2 separate regions of the Homo sapiens genome follow, and region 1 is linked to region 2. Evidence: fine-mapped expression QTL. Tissue or cell type: whole blood. Region 2 holds a variant in brackets; the other region holds the start of a gene. All regions are shown on one strand. Distances are from middle to middle. Region 1 holds the start of MSR1 (macrophage scavenger receptor 1). Region 2 overlaps LOC101929028 (a long non-coding RNA gene).

Evidence for each region.
Region 1: MSR1 starts here. The variant in region 2 is fine-mapped to the expression of MSR1 in whole blood (INTERVAL, PIP above 0.99).

The regions. Positions count from the first base shown.
Region 1 is chr8:16,187,396-16,197,516 of GRCh38, reverse strand. MSR1 (macrophage scavenger receptor 1) reads left to right here and starts at 4,866. Exons shown (of 10, transcript NM_138715.3): 1 at 4,866-4,919.
Region 2 is chr8:16,552,757-16,562,877 of GRCh38, reverse strand. All of the region lies in intron 6 of LOC101929028 (a long non-coding RNA gene), which reads left to right. Among named protein-coding and RNA genes, the nearest start is that of MSR1, 370 kb to the right of the region's middle. The variant G/T (reference allele first, on the strand shown) is at 3,978.

The sequences.
Region 1 (10,121 bases), 370 kb after region 2:
GCATATGAAATTGCTATAAAGTCAATGGTATCCACCTTGCAACAATCCTTTTGGCTATAGCATAAATTCTTTTCTCTCATTTGGGCCCCTAGGCTGACATTCCATCATGATTTCACAGACTTCTGGTTAAGAATTTGCTTAATGCATTTTGCTCTGGCTTAAATTAATTGACACTTTTACAAGTTTGAAACTCATTTAAACTACATGGGTCTTTCCTACAATTCTGAAGCCATAGTTCCCTAAACACAGTGCAATGTGCATTTATGTTTTTAAAATAGCACATAAAAGTGATCTCATATTCACTTTCATTTCCTTGCATTTTTGTATCTTCTTAGTTAAGACATCATCACGAGGAAAGGGTGAATTGTCAAATGTTGCTTGCAGGAGACAGCTGATCTTGCAAGGAAATTAGTCATTCGTATTTTGGGCATATGTTATCCATTCTACTTCCCTAACTGTCTAAGGACAGTGTGACTTTTAGGGTCTTAGGTATGCTTACTTGCCTTTTAGTGTGAGGTTGTATATTAATCTAGCTAGGAGCTGGGTTACGTCTAACATTTCCTGTAGATACAGCTGTCAGAAGCTAAAATTACCTGTAGTGTCTCTTTGTTGCCTCTACTGTATTTAGGTTCCCCTACAAACTTCCCTTTCAAAAAAAACCTTGCATCTCTTTCACCTGTCATCCACTGTTATCATACGGGAGCTCTGTTGACGGAGGGGTGAGATGTGGGGGCGGGGTGAGGTGTTCTATAGTCTTCTGATTAAATCTCAGTCTTTTAGTGGGCCCTTGTCCCCGGACTGTGACCTGTGACCTTCATGAGCGTTTCTAAACTTTTTTTTTTTTTTCCTTTTTCTCTGCCAAGTTGAACTGCAGCTGGAAGACTAGAGGGAGCGAGCATTGAATAGTTACCCTTCAGCTGCCTAGCTAAGATAACGCTCTGATAAACTCTTTTCACTGGGGAGTAAGCCTTTGTTACAGGAAATGCTCTACGTATATTTTAAAATCATTAGATTTCCCTTCTCTCTGCCAGGGACATCAGGTGATATTTTTTGGTATATACTGTGAGAACCAAGTTGTATTCCTGGAAGTAAAGCCTGTAAGTGTTTAGGGGGCGCCTTGAAGACTGCAGCCCCCAGGAGGCTCCAGTGCTCACACTGGTCCATACTCAGCCTCTTGCCAAATTCCTGCTTAGGTGTTCCTGCCAGTTTGTGGTTCCACTGGCATCAGCTGCAGGTGATCTGGTGTCTGCTGTGATGCTCTGTAATCTCCTCTCTCTCCCGGTTTCAGGCTGGTAGTTTCCTTGAGACCTCAGTTCTCTGATGGGTCCAAGACGTCATTGATTTTTAGTTTCTCCAGCTTTTTTCGTGGTGTCGAGATATGAGTGATGACTTCCAAGCTCTTTAGATGTTGAAGCTGCAACTAGAAGTCTTCCATGAACTTTCTTTTAAAAATAGACAGTATGGCATAGTGCAGTGTTTCTCAAAAGAAAATAAATATATTGATCTCTATACCTTATTAAGTGTTGATATATTATTTTATTATAATTTTATGTTAAAATAGAGAAACACGAATTTAGACCTAAACACTGTAAGCCTACAGTTCTTAACCAAGTTTTTGAAATATAATGCATATGTTAATTAAATTTTAAAATCTCGCAAAAAAATTAAAATTTTAACTAACACCACCAATTTAAGATTGTGTGGGCAAGCCAAAATATTATTATAGGTTTAATAGAAGGAAGATACTATTCAATTCTGATACTGTCCTTGGTCTGTTTCTGTATTTGACTTCAATAATTCTCATATAGGAAAGTTCTGTTTAATAAGGCTATATAAAATGTTACTGGTACCTTCACAGTTTTCTGCTTATGATTATCAAAGAAAAAGCTCTGCCAATATGCAATTTTTCAATGTCAATTTTATTAAAGAATGTTTTGATAATTCTGTAAATGCTTTATAATCCCACAGCAATATGTGTCCGTTGCAGCATTATTAAAATCTGTATTTATATCACTATTTACTTATTGCTTTGAATTAAGAACATGAAAAATTTTATCTCGAAACTTTATCATATATATATCATACAATAAATAAGTCATAATGTATTAACTATATATTATGACTAACAACCTGCTGTAACTTTAGACATACAAAAATACCTCTTAATGAGTGTAAAATGTTAACTCTTCTTTTGAGTTCAGTATACCTGTACCACAGTGAGTCCTAGGACATTTGAATCAATTCTCTCAAGCCATTTGCCTATTTGATTATGAATCTCTGTTTGGTCACTGGGCATAATCTTACATGGACCTCATTCTAGACACATATATCCATAAGCAACAAAAATAAAGTAATTGGGATCCATCACAATAACTATGAACAAAGTAACTATCCACATGATCTGGAATTTGCCCATATTTGTGGCTTGTTTTCTGTATACTGTTTTTGATGGAGATATTATAGTCCCCTAATAATACATATACCTACTTCAGCTTAAGAAAAAACTATATTTTGCCAAATTTTGTAATCAGACTGGGTTTAAATACCAGCTCTGATGACTCATAACTCTGATCTCGAGAAATTTACTTACCATCTCTAAACATTAATTTCTCAATTAGGGAAGTGATATGACAAAGTTGCTGTGAAGTCAAATGAAGGAATGAATGCAAAATCCCAACCCTTTACATATTACCTCTGTTCTCAATTAATCATTGGCTTGAACTGAACATTTTTAACATGGTTCCCTGCTAAAGGTGTTTTTACATATAGTAAGACCTAATAGATAATATTATGTTACATAATCTATAATTATTATATATAAAACTATATAAAATTATATAGTACCTATTTAGACATATAAAAAGGGAAGTTTTTTAATGAAAAATTAGATTGGCTGAAGAGTGTGGAAATCATCACATAGGGAAGTGGTCAGCACTGTGGATATACACCAAACAGTATTACAGAGACATACTGAAAATAAAGCACACTGACAGAAAGAAACCTCATTAGGATAGAATTTTGGGAGATTGGTGTCTTGTTATTCCCAGAGTCTGACTTTTCTAATCACGTAGCATTGTCAGGGATATCTAAATTTTAAACTTCAGATTTTGTACAAAAAAACCTAAAAGGACTATATTTTAAAATAAGAAGCATGTACAAATAATTGTAAAGGAAAGAGTGTGAGTTTTGTAGTCTCCAGTTCTGTGTCAGTAAGAATTTGATGAGGAATAGCCAATAGCATTTATGCTGGTCCAGGCTGGATCAAATTGTGATCGTACTTCTAGTCTTCAAGCTGCCTGGTTAGAAATTATGCAGCTTACTTTGATGCCTGTCCTACTACTACTATTAGCCTTTTAGTGGTTACCTTAAGAATAACTGAATAATACTGTTACTTTGCATCTCTCAAAGACCGTGCGCTGTTCCCGCATACTTTCTTGCAGACGTATTGTCTTCTGAAGGATGGTGCCCATGGGCACAGCAATTTGGGGCATCTTTTGGTAGGAAGCATGATTTCTCCTGTTTGGGCACAAAAGAGTGACTACGGAATATAAGCTAAACACCTTCTCCCAGAAATATCAGTTGTAAAACTTAGCTCATTAATGTAATGTTGAACGTTTTCATGTGAGTCATACTTGAACTTCTTGAATGTGAGTAAATAACGGAGTTGAATTGTATAAAACCCTGATGGATGGCAGAAGGGAAAGAACATCCCTTTCATCTGATCCATGCCTGAGATTCCTTCCCTCTACTATACTACTGGAAATAAACAACTTGTCTGGTGCTCTAAAAATTAATGCTATTATCATTATAGAGAGAACAGGAGTGAGTGCTTTTAGGTTATTACTTGTTCTTACTAAGGCATCATATTCTTTCTTCACGTGTTTTGTGTTTGAGGCTAGGGATAAAGGTACAGGAAAAAGGATCTAAGAAAAAAACTCGAATCTCTAAACATGGAGTCTTTTTTTTTTTTTTTTTTTTTGAGGTGGAGTCTCACTCTGTTGCCCAGGCTGGAGTGCAGTGGTGCGATCTCTGCTCACTGCAACCTCCGCCTCCTGGGTTCAAGCAATTCTTCAGCCTCAGCCTCCCGAGTAGCTGGGATTACAGGCGCATGCCTGGCCAATTTTTGTATTTTTAGTAGAGACTAGTTTCACCATGTTGGCCAGGCTGTTCTAGAGCTCCTGACCTCAAGTGATCCAGCCACCTCGGCCACCCAAAGTGCTGGGATTACAGGCATGAGCCACCACACCTAGCCAAACATGGAGTCTTTACTCAACATTATAGTAACGTGAAAGAGGAGATCATGAGAATTAATGTATGTTTTAGAAGGCATAGATTACTTATAAAAAAGGAAAGATCAGGCTGGGCACGGTGGCTCGCGCCTGTAATCCCAGCACTTTGGGAGGCCAAGGCGAGCGGACCATGAGGTCAGGGGATCAAGACCATCCTGACCAACATGGCGAAACCCTGTCTCTACTAAAATACAAAAAATTAGCCGGGTGTGATGGCACACGCCTGTAGAACCTGGGAGGCAGAGGTTGCAGTGAGCGGAGATCACACCACTGCACTCCACCCTGGTGAGACAGCGAGACTCCATCTCCAAAAAAAAAGGAAAGCTCAATCTGCTGTAAATTATGTGCTTGTTTCAACAACCCTTGTTTCTTTTCCTTTTCACTTCTCTTTTTTTTTTAAAGCGGCCTAAATGGGGTGAAGAGTGAGTTATCTGACAAATTTAGATTTTGCAAACCTGTGCATTGATGAGAGTGCTATTGAAACACATTAAGAAAGATTTTCAACGCAGGAATGTGTCATTTCCTTTCTTCATGTACCAGATGCTGAAATACTATGAGATAAAGATTTTAGGTTTCAATTGTAAAGAGAGAGAAGTGGATAAATCAGTGCTGCTTTCTTTAGGACGAAAGGTAAAGAAAAAAAAAGGCTTATTTTAATGTTTTTTCCAGAATTGTTTCTATTGATTGTTATGTGTGTACTCTGTGTGTGTGTGTGCATGCATGTGTGTGATATATATTTGTGTGTCTGTGTGTGTATGATGAGATGAATGCTTTATTGTATCAGCAATAATTTGGTTTGGTTTTTTTCGATAATCAAAAAATAGGGATTTCTGCTAAATTTTCCATGAGTGAAAAACATATATGTTCACAAGTACATATGAAATACACTAAATGCTTTGTAGTTTGAACCAGCAATGGGGTTTTTTCATATAATTAAGCATATTTTGTTTAAAATACTGGTTTTATTCAAAGTATAATTTGACATATTTCACCTATTCTCCTTTCATAACTTTTCATGGAACATTTTTGGCTTTAATCTAATGCCTTTTATTATCTTCCCTTGATTATATAGCAAATATTGGCTGGGTATCTACTATATGCACTTCATTGAACTAGATGTGGGGAAAGGATACAAAAAATAAGATATAGTTCTTTTTGTGCTCCGGAATCTTATGATTTAAAACATATCCCCAAATAGGCATAATGTAATTTGAGCACCTTAAGTAGTATGAAAGTACTATAGATAATTACTAGCACCTTAAGTAGTATGAAAATGCTATAGATAATTACTATGAAAATATAGGCGAGGCCAAAATTACTTCTATGTGAAAAAAGTCTATCAAAAATAAATCTTCATGGAGATGCTAGAAATCTGATTAATCTTGAAGACTAAGTAAGATTCACACAGCATATAATGGGAGGTTGGCATTTGCACTGACCAGGTAAAAATACTTATAGAAAAACCATAGAACTGAGATTACAGATGTTTTATGCAGTGATTAGCCGTTTTATGCAGTGGGTAAGAGCTAATCTTCTGGGAGTAGACTGCCTGTGTTCAAATTCCAGCTCCCCTGCTCCCTAGTTGAGTAACTTGACTAGTTACTTACACATTTCAGTTCCCTAACCTGTAAAATGGAGAAAATACTACTTGTACCTCATGAAGATTCCGTGAGAACAAAATAAGAAAAGCTCATATTTAAAAAAAAAGTGATATTTTAAAATAACAGGGATTCATATATTGATGGTTTTCTGTGTACCAGGCAATTTACAAAAATTATTTTTAATTCTCGCAATAATTCTTTAAATTTATATTGTGATCATATTTTACATATCTAAAGAAAGTTCAATTCAAATAAGTTAAAATATTTGCCTAAGATCACACAGCTAAATGATGTCACAGTCAATACTCAAATCTAGATTTCAGATTCAAAAGTTGATGCTCTTTCTTCTTTGCTACCAAGGATGAATATCAGTGACATCAGGCACAATATAAATATTTCCATTTCTTACTAAAATCTGTCTTACAGACGGGTTCCTTAAGCATAAAGCTGTTAGTTTCACAAATAATCTTAATTTAATTTTCATTTTATATACACATTCAACTGCTGTTACAAAAATCAAAGTTATTATTTTATATAATAAGGAGGATCACAAGCTTATTATTTATTCCAAATGTTGAAGATAAAGTTGGCCTTAAGAATATGATGGGCCGGGCACGGTGGCTCACGCCTGTAATCCCAGCACTTTGGGAGGCCAAGGCAGGTGGATTACCTGAGGTCGGGAGTTCAAGACCAGCCTGACCAACATGGAGAAACCCTGTCTCTACTGAAAATACAAAATTAGCCGGGCGTGGTGGTGCATGCTTGTAATCCCAGTTACTCCGGAGTCTGAGGCAGGAGAATCACATGAACCCAGGAGGCGGAGGTTGTGGTGAGCCAAGATCACGCCATTGCACTCCAGCCTGGGCAACAAGAGCGAAACTCCATCTCAAAAACAAAAAGAAAGAAAGAAAAAAGAAAGAATATGATAAAAAAACTAAATAGGGAAAAATCTTAGGAAAACGAATGCATGTCAAGTATGAAAAGACAGATGGTAAATATGTATTAAACATAAAGAGCTGATTCACATGCTTAGGTAAAAGAAACCTGTGGGGATGTATAAGCAGTGAATATGAATAGATAATAACCCAAGAAGAACAATGTATGACAGACAATTACAGTGAAATCTCTCTCTTACATTAATAATAAAAAATAAAAATGAAAACCACTTTTAGGTATTATTTAACTCTTATCAAAATCTAAATGATTCTAAAATAAGCTTTATTATTCAATGGTAGTGAATTTTGCTTGAAACTGCCATATTCACATATAAGTCTGGAATATTTATAAATTTATGTTATCTTTTTAAAGATCACTAAGACAGTAGAGCCCAAGAAGTTCAAAATAGTTTTCCTTTCACTTTTTAGTTTCACATATGATGAATTATCCTAAAGAAACATTTTAAAAGAAGAAAGCTAAATTATGAAAATAATGGCCGGGGCAGTGGCTCACATCTGTAATCCCAGCACTTTGGGAGGCCAAGGAGGGTGGATCACCTGAGGTCAGGAGTTTGAGACCAGCTGGATGAACGCGGTGAAAAATACAAAAATGAGCTGGGCATGGTGGCAAACGCCTATAATCCCGCTACTCGGGAAGCTGAGGCAGGAGAATCACGTGAACCCAGGAGGCAGAGGTTTCAGTCAGCTGAGATCACACCATTACACTCCAGCCTGGGTGACAAAGCAAGACTCAATCTCAAAAAAAAAAAAAAAAAGGAAATATTTATAACATCATTATTTATATCAGTGAAGCATTGCCCCCTGGGAAAAGGAAAAAAAGTTTAAAAGAAAAAATTATATTTTAGAAAAATGGCTGTATTTTTTATTTAGAAAAATGGCTGTATAAATAAGATTTTATATATATATAAAATATATATAAAATAAGATTTTATATATATATAAAATATATATAAAATAAGATTTTATATATATATAAAATATATATAAAATAAGATTTTATATATATATAAAATATATATAAAATAAGATTTTATATATATATAAAATATATATAAAATAAGATTTTATATATATATAAAATATATATAAAATATATATAAAATAAGATTTCATATATATAAAATATATAAAATATATATAAAATATGATTTTTTATATATAAAAATATATATAAAATAAGATTTTATATATAAAATATATAAAATATATATAAAATAAGATTTTATATATATAAAATATGATTTTATATATATAAAATATATATAAAATATATATAAAATAAGATTTTATATATATAAAATATATATAAAAATATATAAAATAAGATTTTATATATATATGAAATGTAAATAAGATTTTATATATATATGAAATGTAAATAAGATTTTATATATTTGAAATATAAATAAAATAAGATTATATCTAAATATATATAAAATAAGATTTTACATATATGAAATATATATAAAATAAGGTTTTACGTATATATGAAATATATGTAAAATAAGGTTTTACGTATATATGAAATATATGTAAAATAAGGTTTTGCGTATATATGAAATATATGTAAAATAAGGTTTTGCGTATATATGAAATATATGTAAAATAAGGTTTTATATATATAAGCAAGTCTTTGCTACATAATAATTCAACACATATATATATGTTGTTTTATATATATATATATATATATATATATATATGTATGTGTGTTGAATTATTAGGTAGCAAACACTTGGAACCAACCCAAATGTCCCTCAGTGATAGACTGGGTAAAGAAAATGTGGCATATATACACCATGGACTACTATGCAGCCATAAAAAAGATGAGTTGATGTCCTTTGCAGGGACATGGATGAAGCTGGAAACCATCATTCTCAGCAAACTAACAGAGGAACAGAAAAAGAAACACTGCATGTTCTCACTCATAAGTGACAGTTGAACAGTGAGAGCACGTGGACACAGGGAGGGGAGCATCACACACCGGGGCCTGTCAGTAGGTGGGAGGCAAGGGGAGGCATAGCATTAGGACAAACTCCTAATGCATGTGGGACTTAAAACCTAGATGATGGGCTGATGGGTGCAGCAAACCACCATGGCATATGTATACCAATGTAGCAAACCTGCACGTTCTGCACGTGTATCCCAGAACCTAAAGAATAATAAAAAAAATTTCAAGTTTGAAAAATTCGTTTGAAATATTAAAATAATGAGGTGATTTTAAGGAAAACGCGTAATACCAAATGATACGTGCATGATGATATGAACTATGTTACAGGTATACATACATCCAAAGACTCGAGTTTCATTTAAAAAATTAAGGGTTTTTTTCCTTTATTAGGGTGATGAGATGACAGAAATTTCATCCTAACATATCTATAATATTATTAAAATGTTTTATAATAAAAACAAAAAAGTAAGGTATATGGTTCCCAACAAATTAACCTTGAAATTCTTTCATTATGAATTTCCTGTAAACTTTTCATCCACTTGATAAAATGCTGATATTACAGAAACGTGTTTCACTTCTCATGAGCACGTGCTTTTAATAGATTACACAAACTCCAAGGATTTTACAATCGTTTATCAGCACACTGACATTTAATAGGAAGAGTAACTTTATGTGAAGCTACTTTTTGTCCTAACTGTGGAACTGATATTAAAAGGCACACTTGAACAGTGTGAGTTGTTCACTGCCTGCTAATGAAGGCTCATGCAAGTATGTATGTTCACGTTACTAAAAAATTACAATGATTATAACCAGAGTAAGCAGCTGAAATAATCTGGTAATTTTAATAATAAATGCTTTTGAAGCAAAGTGGGTTCACTGAGGGTAATATTTTTTGTTTCAGTTTGCTAGTTACGTGCAGTGCAGAGAGAAATATTTTATTTTCCAATATGTAACAGAAGAATTTTTAAAATCCCTACTTTAGTGAACCACAAAGTTTTCTTGAGGCATAACCTAAGATATAAAATCCAGTCATCTTGAAAAATATCTTGCCTTTCATTTATTTATGTAATTTTAAATACGGCATTATGTATGTAATGAGCACCTTCAGGAACTCTCTGATCCCTGAACCAAAGAGATCAAAAGTCCACATCATGGATCTGGCTTGGATGAGAGAAGACAGATGATAGACAAGACAAATAAGGAATATATGTTTTTGGGGGAAAGAAAATGAAGCCAGGGTGGGGAAGACAAAGCCCCAAGGGGTTGTAGGTTGAAAATGGATGTTCAGGAACAGTCAGCTTGCTTGCTTGCTTGCTTTTTCTTT
Region 2 (10,121 bases):
CAATGAACTACCTTTAACTTCACAAATCATTTCTTTTGCCAATGCAAATATGATGTGACTCCTTCCAATGAATTTTTCATTTTAGTTATTTTAATTTTCAACTCCAGAATTTCTGTGTAGCTATTTTTAAAATATAATTTCTGTGTCTTTAATGATATTCTCTATTCGCTAAGACACAATTCATACTTTCCTTTAGTTATTTAGACAAGGATTCTTTTAGTTCTTTCAACATATTTACAATAACTGACTTAAAGTGTTTGTTTAGTAAATACAATATCTAGGCTTCCTTAGCGACAGTTTTTACTGACTACATTTTTTCCCTTTGTGTCTTATAACCTTGTTGAAAACTGGACATTCTATAATATAATAATTGTGGAAATCAGATTCTCTACCTTCCCCAGGGATGTTGTTTTTGTCATCTGATATTTTTGATCCTCTTCGTGTAGCAGCTTTGCTGTATGAATTCTGCAAAGTCTCTATTTTCTGTCATGAACAGCACTGAAGTCATGGCTTGGTTAGTTTACTGGTCAGCTAATGATAGGACAGAGATTTTCTTAAATTGATTTTTTCTTCAAACAACGTATCCTACCCTTTGCAGAGGAGCTCTGTATGTATTAGGGCATGCCTTTAGCATTCAAGCAGTTTAAAGCTGTGCCTCAGCCTTTACTTTCTGCTTAGAGATTAGGACCTTTCTAGGTTTTCCTGGGCACATGCACAGCTTTGCACATGCATGGGGCCTTCTAGATCCCCAGTAATACATTGAAGCTTTTCCAAGCCCACTAGGAACATCTCATTCTCATCTTCCTTTTTGCCCAACCTCTTGTTTGCCTCAATTGTTATCTTGGCCTCAGGCAGTTGCCATGTTAGGCAATTAGTTTCAACAAATGTTCTGGAGACAAGACTTTTCCTGTTGAACACTGGATGAGGTGAAATAAAGAAAAGCCTTGCTAATGGAGATTTCCCAAGGAGCTGCCAGACAGATTATATATGTGGGGACAAGCATTGTGAGGAGATCCAAATCCAGTTAACTGTTTCTAGTAGCTACTGGGCTGCTTGGTTTCACTACCATGGCTGTGAAGCTGCTGGTGTTCAAGGTTATTGTGGAACCGACAAAAATGAGATGAGAATAGGGCAGGTTAAAATGGTACAAGCCAGCGGAGGGCGGTGGCTCATGCCTGTAATCCCAGCACTTTGGGAGACCGAAGCGGGCAGATCACCTGAGGTTGGGAGTTTGAGACCACCCTGACCAACATGGAGAAACCCCGTCTCTACCAAAAATACACAATTAGCTGGGTGTGGTGGCACATGCCTGTAATCCTAGCTGCTAGGGAGGCTGAGGCAGGAGAATTGTTTGAACCCAGGAGGCAGAGGTTGCAGTGAACCGGAGATTGTGCCATTGCACTCCAGCCTGGGCAGCAAGAGTGAAACTCTTCTCAGAAAAAAAAAAATAAAATAAAATAAAAATAAATAAATAAATAAATAAATAAATAAAATAAAATGGTACAAGCCTTTCTGTTTTTTACTGAGGTTCAGCTATTTTCCTTGAAGAAATTCCCTGCAGAGTGATGGAAGTTTTGGGTTAACTTCTGGAATTTCAAAAAAAGGTAATTTAGACAGTTTTTGCAAGTGCTCTATCATTGCATTACAGATAAGCAGATTTTTGAGGTCCTAATTGTCATTCTGAAAGTCACTGCACTGTAAGAATGTTTCACAACTTTATATTTTTCACGTTTCCACTGGGACATGTCACAAATGCTGAACCTGTAAACTCTTGGAGGTGGGAATTTGCTCACTTACTGGATGGAGGTCATCTTCCTCACGACTGGATGGTTCTTTCTTGGACCTCTATCCTCAAATACCTCAACCACTGTCAGTATTCTGAAGTGCTTAGGGCCTGGGTAGAGGTTGAGTTCCTGCTTTTTTTCTCACTAAGGCATCAGAATGAAGCCTTTGGATCATATTTGCTCTTAGATAGCCTTCTTTAACTTCATCTGAAGTTATTTGGTGCTGAGATAGTAAGGCTTTTGAAAATTTGAGTCAATGTGCTGTGCTCTCTAACAAAATCATATTTTTTTTCTAAATCTTTGTTTGGGTTTAAGGATTTAAAGGATATTATATATTGCGTAGCAATAAATACATTTTTTGCGTAAATCTGGGCTGATGGGTTCCCTAGAATTTCCTTTCCACTGTTTTCTATTGTAACCTTGCAACTGTAAGCTCCAGTAACTGGGATGTTATCACAGTAACTCAGCGATAATGAATGAACAGCACATCTTTTAATTGGAACTGCTCCTTCAGAGCAATAATTATCATTGGGATGCAGGCATGAGAGAGTAACTTGTATTTTAAAATGAAAAAGTCCAACTTAATAGTTCAGTGACTGTTCAAAACAGAGAAAGAGAGCATCATGATGAAACAGAAAAACAGAGAAAGAGAGCATCATGATGAAACAGATGAATGCTACCGGTGAATAAGGCATCGGCTCTCAGTTGACTTCAAAATCTGACTTGGCTTAACTTCTTTTGTATGTCGTGAACTAATGGGGAGAAATATGCATTTGTTTTATTATGCCATTATTTTTCACATTCAATTAAGACAAAAAGAAATTAGATCAAACTATATAGCAGTGGCTAATCCTCAGACTTTTCTTAACAGAAGAAACTTTTCTGGCAAAAGTTTCCGTATCAAGGTTGAGTCACTCGACTCTATTTCTCAATTACTTTCTTGGCAAGACAAATGTGTTTTTGCAAGAGAAAACTAGTGTTGTATTTAATTATCTCTGCAGATAGAATACATCAATACAATTTTAATTAAGAAATTCTTTGAGTATCTTGGAAGCATGCTATTAGGAAGGCTCTTGAAACTTTTAAGTAACAAAGACACCTACAGGCAATGTTTTAAATGCGTTTTTCCTTCTTTTTCTCTTCACTCAAAGGGAACACTATAGTTGCCTTGATGATGTACCTATTTAGTTATAAAATTGCATATTTTAATTGTGTATCAGTCTGTGTTCATAACAATACTCTATATGTAAGAAAGACTCCTTTGTTTTTATAATAAAATAACAAATTTTATTATTTAAAACTTACAGCATTAGAATTATTCCAATTCGTCCCAGTCTTTATCATAGTTGTTTCTGTAATGTATGTGCAAATCTACTAGTATTTGAGGCATTATTTGCAATTGTGAAAATAGTAAACATGACCAGACAATAAAAACTTGGAGTCGTGATTCTGCCATTGTAGAGTGATAACAATCTGAGCTAACCCTTGATATATTTATAATATCAAGAGAGATAATATGTTGAAATACTTTAGAAATTAAGCATAATTCAAATGTAATGTGAAATGACTAGCTTTAATACTAAGTTCCGTATACTTACTGGAAACTGGCTTTTATGCAGAAAAAATGATGTAATCTTGAGCAGATAACAGTCACAAGAATAATACAGATTTTAGAAAATAAGATAAAAAGTTTTTATTTTATTTCTGAGGTAGACTGGAAGAACTGTGCTAAGAATAGGTAATCTCAAATATATGACATCTTGGAAAGTGAATTGCTCAATACAATCGTTAAGGTAATGAGATTTTTGTTTTTAAAAAATACATTTGCCAATATCTTTGTTAAAATCCATATTAATTGCATATCTTTTTGACTGTTCATTTTAGAAGAGCATAATTGTTGCCAATATCACTGCGTTTAGGTAGACAATGAGAATCTGTTTTGGTCTCTTAAAAGCTTTTATAAGTATAAATGGAGCATGAAAGTTAAACTAATGTCAAAGAAATTATCTCTCCAGCAATAAACTAGATGGCAATTTAAGTTCATTTGTTTCACAAGATGATCAATGTCTTTTTTATAAAGTATCATATCTTTACAACTAACAATATATCATTCTGATGAGGTCTCAGCTGAATACATATTTATAATTTTTTAGATTTTTTTCTGCCTTCAGTAAAACTACCACTGACCTAATC[G/T]TTTTGCCTAGTCTAACCTCATATTTCAAAATACAAACACTGCTCACCTCATCACCGTTGGGAATAACAAAAACTTTCCATAAAATATAGAGAATGGGAAGCTCTAACATGGGGAAACTATTTAAAAAGATAAGTATATATTGTCTGACTGCTATTTCCTACTTGACCTACCAGTATAATTTTGATAAAATTTACCAAACATGTTTGAAAAGTGAGATAGAATAGAAAAAAGATGTTTGTCCTATGTATCAGAAACCTATATTCTGCCCCTAGCCTGATTCACTCAACCAAACAAAATATATCACCAATACAGTTGTACCTTAACCCAATTATCAAACATGCCTGTAGCCTCAATATTATAGTATAATTATATGTATTTTTGTAGGGTGGTGGTAGAGATAGAGATTGGCATAGAAAGTGACAGTAATCTTCATTGAATTTAATATTTCTTAGTTTTAGAAAGTGTCCACAAATATATGATCATAACTTCATTGTAAATCTTCCTTTGTAAATGAGATAATTAAAAACTCAGAGTTGCTTCATATTGAAAGCCAGTAAGTTCCCCATGACAACACGGTAAAGGCCAGAATTTATCATATTACCTCTGTAGCAAGAGTTCAAGATCATTTGAGATTGTTTGTACTTAACTACTTGTTATATTATTAACATTAGTGCATCAGTACTAATATTATTAATGTAAAGCTTATATAAAATGATATATTAACATTATTAATAGTATTAATACCTGTGTACTAATATTAGTATTATTTGTGTCATTCAAGCATTCCTTGTGAAGAATAGTTCTGAAAGTAAACCATGCCAACATGCTACAAGAGTTTTCACCTATAAAACAGGCTTACTGGGATTTTTAGTGAATATTCAATATTCTGGTTATTGGATTCAGAAAGGCATTCTTTAAATCTTCATTCTCAGTATTATATGGGCTACATTTTTTTTTCAGATACAAAAAATTATGTGATAATGTGTTTAAATGGATAAGTTAACGTATGTACTTCAGGCTGAATTTTCTTATAATGAAAGTGAAATAGTTGTATAGAAAAGAATACAGCATACTAAAAAAGTGACAGCCTTTGGAACCATAGGAACATTATTTCAAATTCCACTTTGAGTTTGAAATTTTCCATATACTAGGTACTTAGCCTTGTGACTTTTGGTGAAATGAAGAAACTAATGCTACCTTGTAGCTTTATTGAGAGGGTTAACAACCACAGACAGAACAGATTCTCCTAACATGTAACTTTCCTTCTCCTTCTTTGCATTGGCATAAAAAACTTTAAACATTATTTTTCTTATCCAGGAGCAATATAAGTGTATGGCACCTGAATATTTTAATTTATTCAAACTTTAATGATTTCTTATTCTTTCATTAAATTAAAATAATAATAATACAAAACACGATACTACTTTAAAGTGAAGCAAATACAGTTGGAGATACAAAAAGGGAGACATTCTCTTGGTGTACTGTGAATTAAGTTGTTACCCAGGCAGTATCAGGTGTGGATTCAGAAAACATCATTTTGAAAAACTCAAACAGATAATCCTTTGGGAGAAAAAATGTCAATGATCTATTGTAGACATAGCTACTTCAGTTATCATTCATATTAGATAGGAAACCATGTGGAAGAAGTAGTGTAAACACTACTTCAATAGCTCAATCTTAGAAACACAAATGTAGTGATAGAAATGACACCTATGAGAGTTAGTGAAACACCAGAACATATTTATTATGGAAGCACTCTAGAAAAGAAATGGGATTGCCTGCAGAGTTGCACTATCAAAATGTAATTTTCCAAGTAGTCAGCAAATCACATACCTGAATTGTGTTCTCACATATTGGGCAGAAGAGCACTAATCAAACACGGGATTCTCAGAAACAATTCCACACAGTCCTTATAGCATGTGGAGATCATTGTTCTGAAAACAGGCGTTTCTAAATAAGCTCAATTGAATATGTAGGCACATTCTTTAACCTCAATGATTAATACTCCTTGGAAATTGTTGGTACAGTAGAACTCTGACAGTTTCTTAAGACACACCTTTAAGAATTCATGTGGTGGGCAGATCACTTGAGGTTAGAAGTTTGAGACCAGTCTGGCCAACATGGTGAAATCCTGTCTCTACTAAAAATACAAAAAAAAAAAAAAAAAAAAAAAAAATAATAATCAGCTGGGGGTGGTGGTGTGCACCTGTAATCCCAGCTACTCAGGAGGCTGAGGCAGGAGAACTGCTGGAACCTGGGAGGTAGAGGTTGCAGTGAGCTGAGATCACGCTACTGGACTCCAGCTTGGGCAACAGAGCGAGACTCCATCTCAAAACAAACAAACAAACAAGAATTCATGTAGCATAAAGTTTTCCCCAAAAGTACTGATGTTTTATAAACTTTCTTGTTTGTCTCTGTATAGGTCAGAAAAAATGAGTTCATTTAGATTATTAATTGAAACCACTGTAGAATATAATATTTCATTGTATTGTTTTAACCCTAGGATGTTTTCCACCTAAACATCATCACTTTCTCAGATTTAACTATTTTCTTACTTCAGTCATCAGCACTAGGAGTTGATTTTTTAAAACAGAAATAGATGCCTTTCACAAGGACAGCTATTTTTAATTAAAAATTATTTTTATAAGTGTTAGTGCATATAGAATAGAAAGTAAGAATAGTATGGCCATACTGAGATACAAATAGTAGGTGATTTGGGGGTTAACTTCATAGCCAAAGGCCTGAATAGGGCATGAGATTTTAATATGACTCTTATTCCTATTTACATCTGTGGACTGTGTGGAGTTGTTTCTGTGACTCTTGTGTTTGATAGTGCTGTTCTGCCCAGTATTTGAGAACAAAATTCAGGTATGTGATTTACTGTGTACTTTGAAAATTGCATTTGATGATACAACTGTGTGGCACAATTCCATTTCTTTGCCATGACTTATCCTAAGTCCACACGACTAAGCCCTCTTCCAAAAAGGTGGAATCATAAATAGTATACTTAGGTTTGCTGTTGGTTTAATTACAGCATATTAGTAAAATTGAATAAAATAATAATCAGCACATATTACAAATTAAGAATCAAAGCGTTTTTCTGTACTTGTCTATAGTTCCCTGAGAAACCAACAAACTAAATGCAATTGCTATAACATTTCATTTTTTATATGCATAACAGCATTACTTTATTATTTTAGTCTTAAGTTGTTTAAAAAAATCTTATACTCAGGTTCAGATTCAAGTATATATCATGACTAAATATAAGGGGATATGAATTATCCTGAAGTATACTTCTAGCATGCTAGTTCCTCCACTTCAGTAATCCAGACATATGATTCTAAGATGGCCAAATCTTCAAAGGTAAGCTTTTTTTTTTTTTTTTTTTTTGTCCAAGGCAACTGTTCCTTCATTTTCAATGTGTTCCTGATTATTAGATATATTGGAAGTATTCCTGCTGTCACTCTACTTGTCTTAAATTTATTCACGGCTTCAGTTATTCTGATTTTGCCATAACTTTCTTCTAAATAACTCATTTGTTTTCCATCCTTTAGTTCATTTTTTTCATCTTTTACATGTTTATTCTTTCCCGTTAGTCTCTACGTATTCTCACTTGTGTTTCCTTGGGTTTCCTGGTCTTTTTCTCATCTTTCTGAATAATAATTTCGAGATAGTTTACCAAGTTACAACTGATTAGAAAATAATTTCTCTATGTTTTGTGCTCTTATTTAAGATGATATGACACCAATTAAATGATCTTGATATAATTTGTGGCTGGCCTTGTTGCCAAAATACTAAAATTGTAAAACACTGAGAATTCAACGTACAACTATAAACATTTCTGTGACTATTTCTACGGCATATATTTTTATAAAATAGGAATTATGGGATATCTTCAAAGGCTATACTTATTTACGGAGCACCTACTCTCTTCCAAGCATTATTGTATAGTTACAAAGGAAAAAATGCCAATGAACATCTCTGCCTTCAAGGATTCAAAACATTTGCTTAGGGTGTAGTTAGGTAATTTGTCAAATATAGCTCCTCTCCTCTCCTCTCCTCTCCTCTCCTCTCCTCTCCTCTCCCCTCCCCTCCCCTCCCCTCCCCTCCTCTCCTCTCCTCTCCTCTCGTCTCCCCTCCCCTCCCCTCTCCTCTCTTCTCCTCTCCTCTCGTCTCCCCTCCCCTCCCCTCCTATCCTCTCCTCTCGTCTCCCCTCCCCTCCCCTCTCCTCTCTTCTCCTCTCCTGTCGTCTCCCCTCCCCTCCCCTCTCCTCTCCTCTCCTCTCCCCTCCCCTCCCCTCCCCTCCCCTCCACTCTCCTCTCCTTCCCTCCCCTCCACTCCCCTCCCCTTCCCAGACCTCAGCGATGATCTTGAGCAGTAGGATATGAATAACTCCCACATCCTTAGCATTCCAATAATAGAACACTAGGGGAAAGTCGGTTTTAATGCACTCCATTTTGGCTTTTGCACCCATCGCTCCATCAAAAATCCTCTTAGCATTGACAAAAGTAACCTTCATATTGTTAAGTCCAATGCCATTCCCAGTTTTCCTCTTATTTGTCAGAAGGATTTGGTGGAGTTATTTATTCTCTACTCCCTAATACTCTTTCATCGTTTGCCTCCCTGGATACAACACTCATTTGGTTTTCCTCCTTCTCTGTAGCACACCTTTTTAATTTTAATTTTTAAGTTTTTTATTTCCATAGGTTTTTGAATAACAAGTGGTATATGGTTGCGTGAGTATGTTCTTTAGGGGTGATTTGTGAGATTTTGGTGCAACCCTCACCTGAGCAGTATCCACTGAACCCAATTTATAGCCTTTTATCCCTCACTCCCTTCCCACACTTCCCCCTAAATCCCCAAAGTACATTGTATCATTCTTATGCCTTTGTATCCTCATAACTTAGCTTCCACTTATGAGTAAGAACATACGATGTTTGGTTTTCCATTCCTGTGTTACTTCACTTAGAATAGTGGTCTCCAATTCCATCCAGGTTGCTGCAAATGCTATTAATTCATTCGTTTTTATGGCTGAGTAGTATTATATATACACCATAGTTTCTTTATCCACTTGTTGATTGATGGACATTTGGGCTGGTTCCATATTTTTGCAATTTCAAGTTGTGCTGCTCTAAACTTGTGTTTGCAATTATCTTTTTCGTATAATGACTTACTTTCCTCTGGGTGGATAACCAGTGGTGGGATTGCTGGATCAAACGGTATTTCTACTTTTAGTTCTTTAAGGAATTTCTGCCCTGTTTTCCATAGTAACTGTCCTAGTTTACATTCCCACCAGCAGTGTGGAAGTGTTCCCTTTTAAACACATCCGTGTCAACACCTTTTTAGTCTTAATGACTGTTTTTTCCTTTTTTCTTTCTCTCAGAGCCCATTCCAATTTTAGCCTTCTGTATCTCAGTTCATAGCAAGTCTAATGTTCCCAAAACATTGGAATTATCCTTGATTGCTATCTTTTTCTCACACCCATTACAATATGCTGGGAAATCTGGTGACCTTCCAGAATGTGACCACTTCTCATCACTTCCACTTCTGTCGTACAGATCTGAACAACTTTTATCTCCTGCTTGGATTACTGTGCTATTTCTGTCTTGTTATCCTGTAGCCTATTCTCAACACAAAAGCAGGAATGATTTTCATAACTGAAGTTCATGTTAATTCTGTGCTGAGTGTCTTACATTGGCATACGTTTTACTCAAGGTAAAGGCAAATATTTGAATATGGCGCATAACACTTCGCACAATCTTGTTTTTGCTACCTCTAGAACAGCAGTTTTCAATTGCTGGCTGATTTTGCTCCCCCAGGGAAAATGTGATAATTTTTGATGATCATTACTGGGTGGCAATGGGGGTAGGGAGTTGGGGGGCTGTGGATGTTGCTACCATCCAGTGAATGGAGTCCACGGATGTTGCTAAATATCCTAGAATGTCCAGGTTACCCCGTTACATCAAAGAAATATTGGATTTAAAATAGCATTTGAGAATCCCAGATGGAAAGCCTCATTTTCAAATGTTCTCCTTTTTCTCTCAACTCCAACACTGGCATTCTTGTTGACCTTTGAAAACACAGGGATTGTGGAAACCTCTCAGTCTTTTCACTTTGTTTTCCCTCAGCGTGGAAAATATTCC